Linked DNA regions of Homo sapiens: region 2 is linked to region 1. The links come from fine-mapping of genetic effects on gene expression. Tissue or cell type: lymphoblastoid cells. Region 1 holds a variant in brackets; the other region holds the start of a gene. All regions are shown on one strand. Distances are from middle to middle.

Evidence for each region. PIP is the estimated chance that this variant, and not a neighbour inherited with it, causes the effect.
Region 2: LCT starts here. The variant in region 1 is fine-mapped to the expression of LCT in lymphoblastoid cells (GTEx, PIP 0.94).

Annotation. Positions count from the first base shown.
Region 1 is chr2:135,790,267-135,798,712 of GRCh38, reverse strand. LCT (lactase) reads left to right here. Exons shown (of 17, transcript NM_002299.4): 13 at 575-684; 14 at 3,938-4,072; 15 at 7,832-8,055. Among named protein-coding and RNA genes, the nearest start is that of LCT-AS1, 26 kb to the left of the region's middle. RefSeq lists enhancers at 259-782, 783-1,304. The variant T/C (reference allele first, on the strand shown) is at 3,912.
Region 2 is chr2:135,833,037-135,841,482 of GRCh38, reverse strand. It overlaps LCT (lactase), which reads left to right and starts at 4,299. Exons shown (of 17, transcript NM_002299.4): 1 at 4,299-4,953; 2 at 8,293-8,372. The coding sequence starts at 4,314. It overlaps MCM6 (minichromosome maintenance complex component 6), which reads left to right. Exons shown (of 17, transcript NM_005915.6): 17 at 532-1,857. The coding sequence ends at 648.

The DNA.
Region 1 (8,446 bases):
CACGTATCCCCGCACATGATAAGGATGGCCTAGGCCTCATTAGAGAAAATAGGTCAAACGGTTCCCCACTCTGGGGCTGTGAAAGCCCATTAAGAGTTATACTTTGCCCGGAAAGTCAGGAAAGCCTTGCATTTCAGCCCTCCCCAGAAAGTTCTGTTTGCTCCTTGGGCACTTTGATGAGGAAGTGCAGCCGCTCAGTGGTGAGAAAGAGAACCGGGAGCCTGGAGGCTTGTGGGTTCTCCCTTCTCCTCTGCAGGACCCATCCAAGGGCAGCCAGGAAGCATTTGTTGAGCACCAGGGCCAGTGCCCAGGTCAGTTACTGTCACCTCAAGCTACAACTATGAAGAGGTGGCCCTGTCCTCAGTGCAACAGCAACTGAGCAAGCACAGACCCAGCTGGGAGACCTGTGGACACTGAAGCTGCAACAGGCAGGAGCCACAGGGAAGAGAGCTTAACCTGGGGGTCCAGGAAAAGGAGGGAGGTTGTGAGGCCAGGCACTTCTGAGCGGGGACGATGCTGTCTCTTGCTGTGCCCACCTGTAACGCCTGGGCTGTCTCCCCCACCCTACCCGCAGTTCATGGGAGGCTGGTTTGCACATCCTATTTTCAAGAATGGAGATTACAATGAGGTGATGAAGACGCGGATCCGTGACAGGAGCTTGGCTGCAGGCCTCAACAAGTCTCGGTAAGGGCCTGGTGCCCGCAGTGGTGAGGGCATGGGCGTCGGGGTCACAGAGGCATGTCTCGGGCAAGTTACCATGACTGAGCTTCTTTGCTTGCTGGGAAGTTACATGTGATCATATATGTAAAGCTTAGCCCAGCACCTGGCACTGCTATATGCTTGACAGAGGGGTTTGCTATTATGGTTATTATATTGTGGAACAGCCAGGAAATCTGTTCCAAGGCTATCCACCTCTGAGCAACCCCACTATGCCACTCCACAGACAAATCCCAGCTCATCCTATCCTATTTCATCACCGCACGTGTGAATGTGGGTGGCAGTGGCTGACAGTCAGGCGTGTGCTTTGCATCACTTGGCCAGCAGGTGGCGATGGTCTGCACCAAAGCGTCCTTCCTTACCCGCCCGCCCCTTCTTGTCAAGGAAGGAGTAGCAACATTAGCAGCCAACGTTTACCCATCTTCTGTTGGTATCTTTATTTCTATTTAAATACGAGTAAAGTGAGGCGCAAAGATTAGGGCAAGATCACCCAGCTATTAAGAGATAGAGCTGAGATTTGCAGCCAAGCTGTCGGCCCCCAGGGCGCATGCTGGGGGCTTGAGAATCATGCAGGTGGGGTGAGAGGTGTGGTGTGAGGAAGCGCAGGAAGCGGCAGTCACTGCCCACGGGAACATGCCCACCGCTCCAAGGCTGGCGGGAATCAAGTGTGAATTCCCAACATAGTCTTTGAGTCCTGCCCCTAGACGCCCCCATATAGTCCAGCTGAGGATTAAAAATCCAGCTCCCAGGCCGGGTGCGGTGGCTCACACCTGTAATCCCAGCACTTTGGGAGGCCAAGGTGGGCGGATCACTTGAAGTCATGAGTTCAAGACCAGGCTGGCCAACATGGCGAAACCCTGTCTCTACTAAAAATACAAAAATTAGCTGGGTGCGGTGGCGGGGGCCTGTAATCCCAGCTACTTGGGAGGCTGAGGCCAGAGAATTGCTTGAGCTCGGGAGGCAGAGGTTGCAGTGAGCCGAGATCATGCCACTGCACTCCAGCCTGGACGATGGAGCAAGACTCTTTGTCTCAAAAAAAAAAAAAAAAAAAAAATCCAGCTCCCACCTCACAATGCACACCCTGGCCTAGTTAGGGTAAGTTCCCCAGAGCAGGCTGTGCCTAAAGGTCTGATCTGCGAACTGTGATCTCCAGCAAAACCGATGAGCGCCCGGCCCATCTGCACAACTTTGCCGAGCACCTACCATTTGCCCGAGCCAGGGCCAGGGGGAGGGGTCCATGGAAGGAGAGGATTCCATTCGGCTCCTCAAGCTGCTGACAGATCAGCTGGAAAGACAGTTCTCCATCCCATTCCCCAGGCTCTTCAGTACAAAGAAAACTCAGAAGATGAGATCAGGGTAGGCTGGGTAGACCCAGGAGATTTCATGGACAAGGCAGGACATCAGCTGAGCTGGGCCTTGACAGGGGATAGAATGTGGGGGATTGCAGGTCATTCTTTCCACGGGGCAGAGTTGTGAAGACAGGCCTAGAGGTAAGAATGAGTGGGGGTGCCAGAGCTGAGAGTGGGGAGACCAGCCCAGCAGCAGTGAAGGGGCTGAGGCCACATGGTGGAGGGCCTGGAAGCCAAGCACAGGGCCTTGGCTTTGGTGCCACAGGCCATTGCTGGCTTCTGAGCAGAAGCGTCAGGGACAGGAGGAGGCTGTGCTTTGGTTTTCTCCCATCATCTCAGAAACCCCAGGGAAGGAAGGTTCTTGATCCCTCAGGTTAATGGTAGCAGAAAGGTCAAGATGAAAGTGTCAGAGGCCTCAGCAGGGCATCTCTGGGCCACACCTAAACCAGAAGCCCCAGGTCTCCCTGTGGGCATGCGCATGCATTCAGGATCACCTGTACATGCTGCACACAAGTGTATTAGTCAGGTTCTACAGGAGAGGCTTTTCACTCAGAGTGCCTGGAAAATGCTCCATCTACAGGTTAAGAAGCCAAAGTTCCCAGGCTCACAAGTAATCTCAGCACTTTGGGAGGCTGAGGCAGGAGGATTGCTTGAGACCAGGAGTTCAAGACCAGCCTGGGCAATATAGTGAGACTTTGTCTTTACAAAAAATTTAAAAATTATCTAGGCATGGTGACGCACACCTATATTCCCAACTACTTGGGAGGCTGAGGTGAGAGGATTGCTTGAGCCCAGGAGACTGAGGTTGCAGTGAGCTATGATTGCACCACTGCACTCCAGCCTCAGGGGGCGTGCAGTGTCCTCAGGAGGACAGGGCGAGACCCTGTCTGGGAAAAAAAAAAGGAAGAAAGAAAACAAAGTTCAGTGAAATCGTGAGAACTGAGAAATTCAAACTCAAATACTCAATTTGCAAATTATTTCCCCTGCTACTTTGAAGATCTTGAAGCTATTATTATTATTATTATTATTATTATTATTATTAGAGTTGGAGAAAAGAGGCATGCCTAAACAAACCCCAAGAGGAGCAGAGAAACTTGGAAAGGGCAGAAAACGGAAATACAAATTACACAAGATACAGGGCCGGGTGTGGTGGCTCATGCCTGTAATCCCAACACTTTAGGAGGCTGAGGTGGGCGGATCACTTGAGGTCAGGAGTTCAAGACCAGCCTGGCCAACATGGTGAAACCCCATCTCTACCAAAAATATAAAAAATCAGCCAGGAGTTGTGGCAGGCGCTTGTAGTCCCAGCTACTTGGGAGGCTGAGGCAGGAGAATCACTTGAACCCAGGAGGCGGAGGTTGCAGTGAGCTGAGATCGCGCCACTGCACTCCAGCCTAGGTGACAGAGCCAGACTCAGCCACAAAAAAAAAAAATTATACAAGATCTAACTTTACAAACATAGGGGAAGAGTCTCAGATATGTACCTCAGGCATGCTCTTGATTTTGAAATCTGTCATAGATGCTAAATATCAGAATTTGCATATGTTGTTTGAAGGAAATTAAAAACTGTTTATGCATGTGTGTGTGTGTGTGTGTGTGTGCGCGCGCGCGCGTGGGTGCGTGTGTGTGTGGTCCTTCAGGTTTCAGAGGCTCTTGTAGAGACCTAGGGAAGCCAGGTTTATGGTCTGGCTGGAGGAGCCGCAGTGCTTCCTGCACCGCCTGAAGGACCTCTTCTCCTTCCCTGCCAGTTTCCCCTACTCACTGCCAAGTGCCTGGGGTTCGGAGAGCTCCCCCGCCCCAGCCCTATGACGTTCTCTTCTCAAAGCATGGCTCTCCCTGAAGCCC[T/C]GCCCTCAATGGCTTCTTCCACCCAGGCTGCCAGAATTTACAGAGAGTGAGAAGAGGAGGATCAACGGCACCTATGACTTTTTTGGGTTCAATCACTACACCACTGTCCTCGCCTACAACCTCAACTATGCCACTGCCATCTCTTCTTTTGATGCAGACAGGTAAGTCCACCAACAGGGAGCCCGGAGCCATCTCTGGAAAAGGCAGAAAGGTGCCCTTGGCTGTGCTCTCTGAGGCCTGCCCAGCCTCAAAACAGGGCCTCCAACGCCGAATGTGCCGGGGTTTGCAAGATGCTCGCCACCCCACAGATCCCAAGGAAATCTCCAGCAAGCAAGAGGGAGAGAAGGCCGGGGTCTCCAGGGCACCTCCCATTAGGGCACATGTGCTTGGCTTTTTGTTTTTTTATTTCATTTTTAAAATTTATTTATTTTGCGTTCTTTTTCACAGGCTGCTTAACTCTAAAAATGCTTGGTTGTTAAAAAGGATTTTCAAGAAAAAAATTGTTTAGGTTTTATCAAAATTCGCTTTAATATTAATAAATATTACAATAATACAAGAGTAAAATTTTATTTTCTCTTTTTAAACAATGCTTTTATGAAGTAGAGATAGTAAAAGATTTTGGTTCACCTTTTAAGTAACAGTTTTTATTTTATTTATTTTTTTTGAGACAGAGTCTCGCTCTGTCACCAGGCTGGAGTGCAGTGGCACAATCTTGGCTCACTGCAACCTCCACCACCCGGGTTCCAGTGATTCCCCTGCCTCAGCCTCCAAGTAGCTGGGATTACAGGCGCGTACCTCCACGCCTGGCTAATTTTTTTTTTTTTTTTTTTGTATTTTAGCAGAGACGGGGTTTCATCATGTTGGCCAGAATGGTCTCGGCTAATTTTGTGTTTTTAGTAGAGACAGGGTTTCTCCATGTTGGTCAGGCTGGTCTCTATCTCCTGACCTCAGATGATCCCCTTGCCTTGGCCTCCCAAAGTGCTGGGATTACAGGTGTGAGCCACTGCGCCCAGCCGATTGTCTTTTTCTTTATGATATCTATTTATCTAGAGACTTTTTCATCCATATCCTGTATTGTTTTTTAAATTTCTCTAAGTTAATTTTCACCTTTCTCTAGTACCTCCTTGAGTAGTTTAATAATCAACCTTCTGAATTCTTTATCTGGCAATTCAGAGATTTCTTCTTGGTTTGGATCCATAGCTGGAGAGTTAGTGCGACCTTTTGGGGGTCTTATAGAACCTTGTTTTGTCATATTACCAGAATTAACATTTCTGGTTCCTTCTCATTCAGGTAGACTGTTTCAGTGGAAAGATCTAGAACTCAAGGGCTGCCCCTCAGATCCTTTTGTCCCACAGGGTGATCCCTTGATGTGGTGCTCACCCCCTTTCCCTAAGGATGGGGCTTCCTGAGAGCCAGACTGCAGTGATTGCCATTGCCCTTCTGGGTCTATCCACCCAGCAGAATTACTGGGATCTGAACTGGTGCTGAGGAATGTCTGCAAAGAGTCCTGTGATGTGATCTGTCTTCAGGTCTCCCAGCCATGGATACCAGCACCTGCTCCAGTGCAGGTGGCAGGGGACTTAAGTGGATTCTGTGAGGGTCCTTGGTTGTAGTTTTCTTTCGTGCACTGGTTTTCTCAAACGCTGGTTATGCGAGCAGTGAAGTTGTCATGTGGACAGACTCAGGACCTCTGGTTAGCCAGGATGTTGCAGGCAGTGGAATTAGTTGTTGTTTTCTCTTTCTTTGGAGCAGGGTTCTTCTGTTATGAGTTGCTATAATGGCGTGAGTTGGTTGGTCTCCAGCCAGGAGGTGGCACTTTCAAGAGAGGAGGTGGCACTTTTGAGGTGCTTTCCCCTTCCACTGCCACCAGCTGCGGTAGTAGAAGGGGGATTACAAGGTTGCCCTACGTTGGCCAGGGTATTTGGGTTTCTCAGGTTATGGGCGGGGCCATAGAGCTCCCAAGAGTTTATGTCTTTTGTCTTCAGCTACCAGCAAAGGTAGAGAAAGACCATCAGGTTGGGGCAGCATTAGGCATATCTGAGCTCAGACTCTCCTCGGGTGAGGCTTGCTGTGGCCACTGTGGGGGAATAGGGGGCTGGTTCTCAGGCCAGTGGAGTTCTGTTCCCAGGGGTATTATGGCTTCCTCTGCTGTGTCATACAGGTTGCTAGGGAAGTTGGGAAAGCTGGCAGTCACAAGCCTCACCTAGCTCCCATGCAGCCAGCAAGGCCAGTCTCACTCCTGCTGTGCCCTGCCAACAGTGCGCAGGGCAGAGATCTCACCCCAGGCCACAAGCCTTCTCTCTGAGAAAGCAAACAGGGCTTTCAGGCCTTGCCCCTCCCCACCTGCCCACACTGTTGGCTGTGGCTTCTGTGCTTTTATCTGCACTTCTTGTTTGCCCCCAAGATTCTGCTCAGGAAAATTCATGCTTCTAGTTGAAATTAATAAGTTGAGCTAGAAGCTTCCTTAATCCTGCCCCTCCCTAATTCCACTGGCTTCCTTCTACAAGGACCCCTGTAGGATAAAGTCAGGAATGGCTTCCCTGGGCTCAAGCTGGGGACAGGGAGTGGCTACAGGGCTCTTCCCACTGCTTCTTCTACTTTTACATTTCACTTGGCTCCCTAAATCCACTTGCGCTCTAGGTAAGGTTAAATCCTTCTCCTATGATCTGGATGTTCAGGTCCCCAGAGAGGATGTGTGTTCAGAGGCAGACTTTCCCCTTCTCACACTTTGGGAACTCACAGTTTTGCAGCTGTCTCATGGAGTTTGCAGTAGCATTCTGCTTCTTTCAAAGGTCTGTGAATTCTTTTGGTTTTTCTGGTATGTTCCAGCAGTAGTTCTTGGAGCAACAGTTAACAATGTGAGTCTCCACACACTGTTCTGTCCATCCAAGTGGGAGCTGTACCTAAGTCCTGTCTCTTATCTGCCATTTTCAGAAAATCTCATTTTGTTCCTTTTCCATCAAGCATCTTTCCACACCAGTAGCTCTGACTGTGTCCAGGTTCTTTCTTTGAAAACCAGCCCCTCCACTCCCACTGTATCCTGAAACCCCCAGAGTCAGGCTCACCAAGGGGGCTGAGGAGACTCCAGAACACCCCTCTACTCCTTCTGATTCTCCCTCCCTCTTATGAGCCCTGGGGCTGTCCCTGGGAAGACCTCCACTAGTGCTTATGAAATGGCCCACATTCAATTCAGCTGAGTCAGATAAATCCAGGTGCTGATAAAACCAACATTTTTTTTTTCCCTGAAAGATCTGAGTGTAGGAAGTGTCTAAATTCTTGGTTCTTATTTGACATATGTGACTACAGGTGATCAGGCTTCTGTGGCCTCCCCCAGCAGGCACCCCTGTGGCAGGAGCTGTCCACCTCCTCGTCCATCACTGAAGAGAGAGGCCAGGCTCTTGGACACTTGAAGGAGGTGCCAGCCTGTCTGCTGCCTGTCTTCACACAAAGCAGGGCCCCTACAAATATTCGTGCCTGTGGCCTCACCCGTGGTCTGCAAGTGGCATTGACTAGACATGGGTGACTTGGGGGAGCCCATTCTCTGAAGACACAGCACTGGCGTCCATTGGAAGCCTGGAGCTGGGGACCCATAGCCTTTCATAGCTGGTGTAAGGAGCCATCTATTCAGAGTAGTGGAGGGCTGGGCTCCATGAGCAAGACCATTCTCTGCACAGGCAGAGAAATTGAAGGACGGAGAGCTGAGTGGCTTGTCCAATGCTATACAAGCACAGAGTGCAGGCAGCTAGAACCAGCGAAAGGAGGAGAATTTGAGGCAATTTGATTCTTCTGGGTTTAGTATGATTCTTAAGGCTAGACAAAACCTAAGGCTTTTCCTGGTCTAAGTCCTGTTTTGTGTTTCGTGTAAAGGGCCTCTTGAGATTTACAAAACAAGACCTCATCTTTAGTTTTTGAACTTGTAGAGGAGTTGCTTCCATCGCAGATCGCTCGTGGCCAGACTCTGGCTCCTTCTGGCTGAAGATGACGCCTTTTGGCTTCAGGAGGATCCTGAACTGGTTAAAGGAGGAATACAATGACCCTCCAATTTATGTCACAGAGAATGGAGTGTCCCAGCGGGAAGAAACAGACCTCAATGACACTGCAAGGATCTACTACCTTCGGACTTACATCAATGAGGCCCTCAAAGGTACGACGGGCCCGCCCTTCCCCAGCGTGCACCTTCCCCTGTTGGAAACATCTGCTATTTGCAGGAGTGTGATACAGCGTCCTTGGGCCACAGTAAGAAGAGAACGATAAGCCTTCTTGCTCCTGTGGGGGTTAAGCTTTGCTTTAGGGCCGCACTCTGAGTTTTTTTCCTTCCTATGTCTAAGCTCAGCAAGCAAGCCCAGTGGCCTGATGCCACCAAACCCTAGTTCCTGGCCTGAGTCACTTGCTCCCCTTGATCCTCCCTGATGTCGGAACAGCAGTGCCCTCCTGAGAATGGTCTGGGTAGGGCCCAGGAGGAGTAGGCTGTGTGGTTGCCTGTAGGGTCTCTTAGTCTCCGAGCAAAAGTTTGAGGCTCTTGGCTCAGCCCTAAC
Region 2 (8,446 bases), 43 kb before region 1:
TTAAAATCTGTCATCAAGATTTTAAGCCAGATGGCATGTTCTACCTTTTTTTTTATTAGCTCAGAGTGAAAAATTTTTCAGATGAATTTTCATAGATTCTTCTCCTAACTCTATGAAATGGTGGTATATGAAAAAGTTCAGTGGTCATAATTAAAAATTGCTGAATGATATTAAGTATGAAACAGACTTCCAATTAATTAGAAGATTTTGCAGAGTTGTTTAACCTTAAAATTCAAGCATTACTTCCTTTTTTGAAGTTGTATTTACAAGCATTTGATGTAATATATTTAAGTATTTCTTAATTTTCCACAAGGGGTTTATGGTATGAAAAGGTCAGCATCCTACTAGGAACAGGGTTTAGCAGAGCACTGATAGTGATTTTTAAAGTGTGGTCCTTTTCCTAGGAGTTTCTAGTTGGGAAATGAAAGAAAATGTTGATAGCAAACACTCGGAAGAAGGGTCAAGTCTTGTATATCTGGACATTGGTATAATACTGCTTGAAACCTGAGGACAAATATTTGTGTTTCACAGGATCATGTTCTAATTGAGCTCACCCAGGCTGGATTGAAAGGCTCCACAGAGGGAAGTGAGAGCTATGAAGAAGATCCCTACTTGGTAGTTAACCCTAACTACTTGCTCGAAGATTGAGATAGTGAAAGTAACTGACCAGAGCTGAGGAACTGTGGCACAGCACCTCGTGGCCTGGAGCCTGGCTGGAGCTCTGCTAGGGACAGAAGTGTTTCTGGAAGTGATGCTTCCAGGATTTGTTTTCAGAAACAAGAATTGAGTTGATGGTCCTATGTGTCACATTCATCACAGGTTTCATACCAACACAGGCTTCAGCACTTCCTTTGGTGTGTTTCCTGTCCCAGTGAAGTTGGAACCAAATAATGTGTAGTCTCTATAACCAATACCTTTGTTTTCATGTGTAAGAAAAGGCCCATTACTTTTAAGGTATGTGCTGTCCTATTGAGCAAATAACTTTTTTTCAATTGCCAGCTACTGCTTTTATTCATCAAAATAAAATAACTTGTTCTGAAGTTGTCTATTGGATTTCTTTCTACTGTACCCTGATTATTACTTCCATCTACTTCTGAATGTGAGACTTTCCCTTTTTGCTTAACCTGGAGTGAAGAGGTAGAACTGTGGTATTATGGATGAGGTTTCTATGAGAAGGAGTCATTAGAGAACTCATATGAAAGCTAGAGGCCTTAGAGATGACTTTCCAAGGTTAATTCCAGTTGTTTTTTTTTTTTTTTAAGTTTATAAAAGTTTATTATACTTTTTTAAAATTACTCTTTAGTAATTTATTTTACTTCTGTGTCCTAAGGGTAATTTCTCAGGATTGTTTTCAAATTGCTTTTTTAGGGGAAATAGGTCATTTGCTATATTACAAGCAATCCCCAAATTTTATGGTCTTCCAGGAAAAGTTATTACCGTTTATGATACTAACAGTTCCTGAGACTTAGCTATGATCAGTATGTTCATGAGGTGGAGCAGTTCCTGTGTTGCAGCTTTTAACAACAGATGGCATTCATTAAATCACAAAGTATGTTAAAGGTCACAAAAGCAAAATAACTGTCTGAGGCTAAGGCCCACGTGGGACAGTCTAATACCCATGAGTACTCAACTTGCCTTGATGTCTGAGCTTTCCAGTGCAATGTGAATTTGAGCAGCCAGAAATCTATTAGTAGAAAGCAAGACAGATTAATATAGGTTAAAACAATGATTTAAATATGTTTCTCCCAATAATTATCTCTTTCCCTGGAATCAACTTGTATGAAACCTTGTCAAAATGTACTCCACAAGTATGTACAATTAAGTATTTTAAAAATAAATGGCAAACATTAAAAACAAGAGTGAATACTCAAGTAGATTTGTCATGGGATTTTTATAAGAAGACTGGTATCAGGTAATGTATCTTTAAAGACTAGGCTGCTCTGCTGACGTAGTAACCATTTTTTATTCCTTTACTTTCCTAATAGCCTTGCTTTCACTTAAGAAAAAAAAAGGCTAGGCACGGTGGCTCACGCCTGTAATCCCAGCACTTTGGGAGGCCAAGGTGAGTAGATCACCTGAGGTCAGGAGTTCGAGACAAGCCTGGCCAACGTGGAGAAAACCTGTCTCTACTAAAAGTACAAAAATTAGCCAGGCATGGTGGTGGGCACCTGTAATCCCAGCTACTCAGGAGGTTGAGGCAGGAGAATTGCTTGAACCCAAGAGGTGGAAGTTGCAGTGAGCTGAGATCATGCCACTGCCCTCCAGCTTGGGCGGCAACAACAACAACAAAAAAAGATTCCCAGGCTTCACCCTCTACAGTCTATGGAAAGTCATGGGAGTCTATTAAAAAAAAACAGACACTATAAACCAAATTAAAAGATGGGAAAATTTTTCTATCACGTTTTAATATGTGATATCCAAACTCCCATTAAGAATTTTTATATCAGTAATAAGATAAAACTCAGAAGAAAAATGCCCAATTAACAAGAAGAGCTTCACCTCTTAAATAATCAGAAAAAGAAAAGCACATAATATTTACGTCAAAGTATCAAAAATGTAAAAGTTTTATAATAGGCATTAGCAAGGCAGACGGATACAGGCACACATCTAACTCTATGTAGGATTTAACTTGGAAGACAATTTGCATTTCAATCAATCAAAAACCATTTTTTTTTTTGAGATGATCTCCCTGTGTTGCCCAGACTGGCCTCAAGCTCCTGGGCTTGAGCAGTCCTACAGTCTGAGCCTCCAAAAGTACTGGCAAAACAGGCGTGATTGACCATGCCCAGCCTGTATATAAGGATATTCATTTGCAGCATTGTTTGCAACACAAAAATGTAAAACCAACCGGTGTTTAATATGCAAGATGTTAATTTATGGTACATTCTTGCTGTGGAAAGCTATGCATCTGTTAGAGGTGGGTCTATATGTTCTGATACAGGCAGAACTCTAAGAGCTATTAAGTGAAGAAAAGGCTGAAAATACATATGGCATAATTCCATATATGTTAAATTGTTCTATATTTTAAATGTTATACACGTTTCCATTTGTATTTACGTAATAATAATGATCCCTGAGCTGTACTGTTGTATACATGCTACAAGAAAGACCCATTTAATCCCCACAGCCTATGATGAATTATCCACATTCTACAGGTGACAAAATAGAGGCACAAAGTTAAGTAATTTTTGTCAGGTGAGATTTAAACCCAGGCATTCTGACTCCTGTATAACCATTAAGATATGCAGAGAAAGAAAACTGGAAAGATACATATTGCTGAAGATACTTATTATAGGAAGAGGAGGGGGGAGGGTGAAGGAATTTGCAAGTTTTTCATAGATGTTTCCATATTGTTTGAATCTCTTACAAAATATGTTCAGCATATTTTTAAAGAGAAAATTTGGGGCAAAATACTTATTTTTGTATTATGTAAACAAATTTTAAAATAATGTGTGGCTGGGTGCGCTGGCTCACACCTGTAATCCCAACACTTTAGGAGGCTGAGGCAAGAGGATTGCTTGAGCCCAGGAGTTCAAGACCAGCCTGGGTGACATGGCAAAACTCCATCTCTACTAAAAATACAAAAAATTAGCCAGTCGTGGTGGCGCACACCTATGGTCCCACCTACCCAGGATGCTGAGATGGGAGGATCACTTGAGCCCAGGAAGTCAAGGCTGCAGGAAGCTGTGATCGCACCACTGCACTCCCACCTGGGCAACAGAGTGAGACCCGGTCACCAAAAAACAAAAAAAACAAAAAAAATTGGTAATCGTTTTCTTCAGACATTTTCCGGGTTCCTCTGCTTAACTTGTATAGGAAGTCTGAGGTTTTTGTGTTGGTCTTTACCTTTTTTTTTTTTTTTTTTTTTTAAGATGGAGTCTCATTCTGTTGCCCAGGCTGGAGTGCAGTGGCATGATCTTGGCTCCTGCAACCTCCGCCTCCTGGGTTCAAGTGATTCTCCTGCCTCAGCCTCCTGAGTAGCCGGGACTACAGGCGCATGCCACGATGCCTGGCTAATTTTTTGTATTTTTAGTAGAGATGGGGTTTCACCATGTTAGCTAGGACGGTCTCGATCTCCTGACCTCGTGATCCGCCCACCTCGGCCTCCCAAAGTGCTGGAATTACAGGTGTGAGCCACCACGCCCGGCCCTGATCTTTACATTTTTAAATATTGCATTAGTGAACCGTGTACTGATTTTGTGATCATAGATAACCCAGTTAAATATTAAGTCTTAATTATCACTTAGTATTTTACAACCTCAGTTGCAGTTATAAAGTAAGGGTTCCACATACCTCCTAACAGTTCCTAGAAAATGGAGCTGTCTTGGCATGTAGTCTTTATTGCCCTGCTAAGTTTTTCATGCTGGGGGTCAGACTGGGAGTCTGATAGAAATTTCATTTCCACCGCTGGTCCTCTAACCAATGACTTGCTGCACAACCTGAGTGGTCTCCTGGGAGACCAGAGTTCTAACTTTGTAGCAGGGGACAAAGACATGTATGTTTGTCACCAGCCACTGCCCACTTTCCTGCCAGAATACTTCAGCAGTCTCCATGCCAGTCAGATCACCCATTATAAGGTATTTCTGTCATGGGCACAGCTCCTCCCAGCAGGAAGCACCCAGAATCCAGACGAGAAAACAGTGCAGTGCTACCGGCGACTCCTCAAGGCCCTCAAGACTGCACGGCTTCAGCCCATGGTCATCCTGCACCACCAGACCCTCCCTGCCAGCACCCTCCGGAGAACCGAAGCCTTTGCTGACCTCTTCGCCGACTATGCCACATTCGCCTTCCACTCCTTCGGGGACCTAGTTGGGATCTGGTTCACCTTCAGTGACTTGGAGGAAGTGATCAAGGAGCTTCCCCACCAGGAATCAAGAGCGTCACAACTCCAGACCCTCAGTGATGCCCACAGAAAAGCCTATGAGATTTACCACGAAAGCTATGCTTTTCAGGGTGAGTACACATTGACCTGATGGTGACCCCTCGGCAACCTTCATCACACACCTTCCCCATCCTCCTTAGAGCAGATTCGACATTTCTCCCAACTCACCTTCAGCAGTCCTCTTATGTCTGTGCATAGGGAGAAATTAATATTGTAAATTGATTTCCCACTGGCGATAGGAAGGGGTAGCTAACATGGCAAAACACTCAGCATTTCCTTTGAAAAATATCTTTGAGGCTCACGCCTGTAATCCTAGCACTTTGGGAGGCCGAGGTGGGCGGATCACTTGAAGTCAGGAGTTCGAGACCAGCCTGGCCAATATGGCAAAACCCCGTCTCTACTAAAAATACCAAAATTAGCCAGGGATGGTAGCAGGCGCCTGTGATCCCAGCTACTCGGGAGGCTTAGGCAGGAGAATTGCTTGAACCCAGGAGGCAGATGTTGCAGTGAGCCGAAATCATGCCACTGTACTACAGCCTGTGCGACAGAGCAAGACACAATCTCAAAAAAAAAAAATATGTATACATATATATATATATATATATATATATATATATATATATACACACATGTATTTTTGAAATACCCCTTGCCCAGTCTTGAGTTGTGCAAGCACTGATTGTCTTTCTGTCTTCCTTTCCGTCTATGTCCTGCTACCCTGACTTGGAGGCAAAGTTTCGTGGTTTCCTGTCCTTCCCCCTCGGCTCCCCTATACTTACATGTCTTAGTTGGAGCTTACATTGCAGCTTGGGAGACAGACAAATACAAGATGAAACAATTATATATCACAGGATGAGGAGAGCACAACTGTAACTGTTCACATTCCTGCCTCCTAGGGGACTTGAAGTTCTGATCTGTAGGCCTAGGCTGAACCAGGACATTTGTGATTATAATCAATTCCCTAAGTGTATGTTAGGTACACCAATTTTGAGAATCAATTTTGGATTATATATGCTTTCTTGTTTTTATTATATACCATATACATACATATTTGTATATATAGTACCTGATATATATATATATATATATATATATATATATATATATATATATATATACTTCTATGTTCTACTTTTTCATTTTAACATAGTTTATGACTATATTCTCATTTTATTAAAAACTTGAGCCAGGCATGGTGGCTCATGCCTATAATCCCAGCACGTTAGGAGGCCAAGGCAGGGGGATTGCTTGAGGCCAGGAGTTGGAGACCAGCCTGGGCAACATAGAGAGCCACTATCTCTAAAATAATATAATAATTTACTCCAGTGCTGGAATAGTATTGCTTAAAACAAAAGAAAAACTTGAAAGCATAACTTTCAATGGTCTTTTAGGTTCCCATTGTATAAATGGAGCATAAAGTTTAAGGTATTTTCCTTATTTTTGTATGTTTATTCTAATTTTCACTAGTTACAAGTTATGTTGCAATGACATTCCTATCTATAAACTATTTCCCACCTTCTGATAAATTCTTTCTGACAGAATCTTAGAATTGAAACTACTAGGTGAAAAGATCTGCATTCTTTAAGATTTTAAAGCATGGTACTAAATTATTTTCCAGAAAAGTTGTAATCATTTATACGAACAGTTATAAAATTACTCTCTGACCCCATTCTGTCAGTTTCAAATGCTATATTTTATTACTAATTTGACAGCTGAAAACAGCTTATTTTCATGTCTTGTTAATTTGCATGTATTTGATTATAGAGACGTTAAACATTTTTTTCTTCTTCTTTTTTTTTTTTTTTTTTTTTTTGAGATGGAGTCTCACTCTTTTGTCCAGGCTGGAGTGCAGTGGTGTGATCTCGGCTCACTGCAACCTCTGCCTCCCGAGTTCAAGCAATTCTCCTGCCTCAGCCTTCCCAGTAGCTGGGATTACAGGCACGCACCACCACATCTGGCTAATTTTTGTATTTTTAGTAGAGATGGGGTTTCACCGTGTTGGCCAGGCTGGACTCAAACTTCTGATCTCAGGTGATCCGCCCGCCTCGGACTCCCAAAATGCTGGGATTACAGGCGTGAGCCACCACGCCCGGCCTTAAACAAAAAAATAAAATAAGGCCAGGCGTGGTGGTTCACGCTTGTAATCCCAGCACTTTGGGAGGCTGAGGCAGGCGGGTCACAAGGTCAGAAGATCGAGACCATCCTGGCTAACACGGTGAAACCCCATCTCTACTAAAAATACAAAAAATTAGCGAGGCGTGGTAGCACGTGTCTGTAGTCCCAGCTACTCAGGAGGCTGAGGCAGGAGAATCGCTTGAACCTGGGAGGCGGAGGTTGCAGTGAGCCGAGACTGCGCCATTGCACTCCAGCCTGGGCGACAGAGCGAGACTCTGTCTCAAAAATAAATGAAAAATAAACTAGGACATCATAGCTGCCTTATTCACAATAGCCAAAAGGTGGAAGCAACCCAGATATCCACTGATGGATGAATGGATAAACGAGACGTGGCATAGACATAAAATGGAATATTACTCCACATTTATTAAAAAGGGAAGAAATCATCACATGCTACAACATGGATGAACCTTGAGGACATTATGCTATGTGAAATAAGCCAGACACAAAAAGACAAACGCTGTATGATTCCATGTATAGGAGGAAACTAGAGCAGTCGAATTCATGGAGAGAGGAAGGAGAATGGCAGAGGCCAGGGGCTGGGGTAGGGGAGAAATGGAGAGCTCTTTAATGGGAGTAGAATTTCTGTTCAGAAAAATGAAAAAGTTCTGGAGATTGGTTGCACAACAATGTGAATATACTTAATAATACTGAACTGTGCACTTAAAAATAGTTAAGATGGCCGGGCGCGGTGGCTCACGCCTGTAATCCCAACACTTTGGGAGGCCAAGGCGGGCAGATCATGAGGTCAGGAGATCGAGACCATCCTGGCTAACCCGGTGCAACTCCGTCTCTACCAAAAATGCAAAAAATTAGCCGGGCGTGGTGGCGGGCCCCTGTAGTCCCAGCTACTCGGGAGGCTGAGGCAGGAGAATGGCGTGAACGCGGGAGGCGGAGCTTTCAGTGAGCCGAGATGGCACGACTGCACTCCAGCCTGGGCGACGGAGCGAGACTCCGTCTCAAAAAAAAAAAAAAAAAAAAAAAGAAGTTTAGGAAGGAGTTCTCTCCTTGCCAACTCTCCAACTGCTCTGCATTTCATAGTCCTGATTTTCACAAAACACTCTCTAAAGGAACATTATTTTTTTAAGCCACCTTGTCTTCTAAAATCTTTCAGCTAGAGTAAAGTCATTTGGATGATTTCTTCAGGTCCATAGGAAATGAATCCCCCAGTGGTTTCCACAGTCAGAGCCTCCTGCCCTCGCTCACCTGCTGTTCGTGTCTCTGGTTGGTTTCAGGCGGAAAACTCTCTGTTGTCCTGCGAGCTGAAGATATCCCGGAGCTCCTGCTAGAACCACCCATATCTGCGCTTGCCCAGGTGACAGCAGCCCAAAAATATACCTGTAACATCTGAGGAGAGTTTGATTTTAATTTTTTAAAAACAAGAGAAGT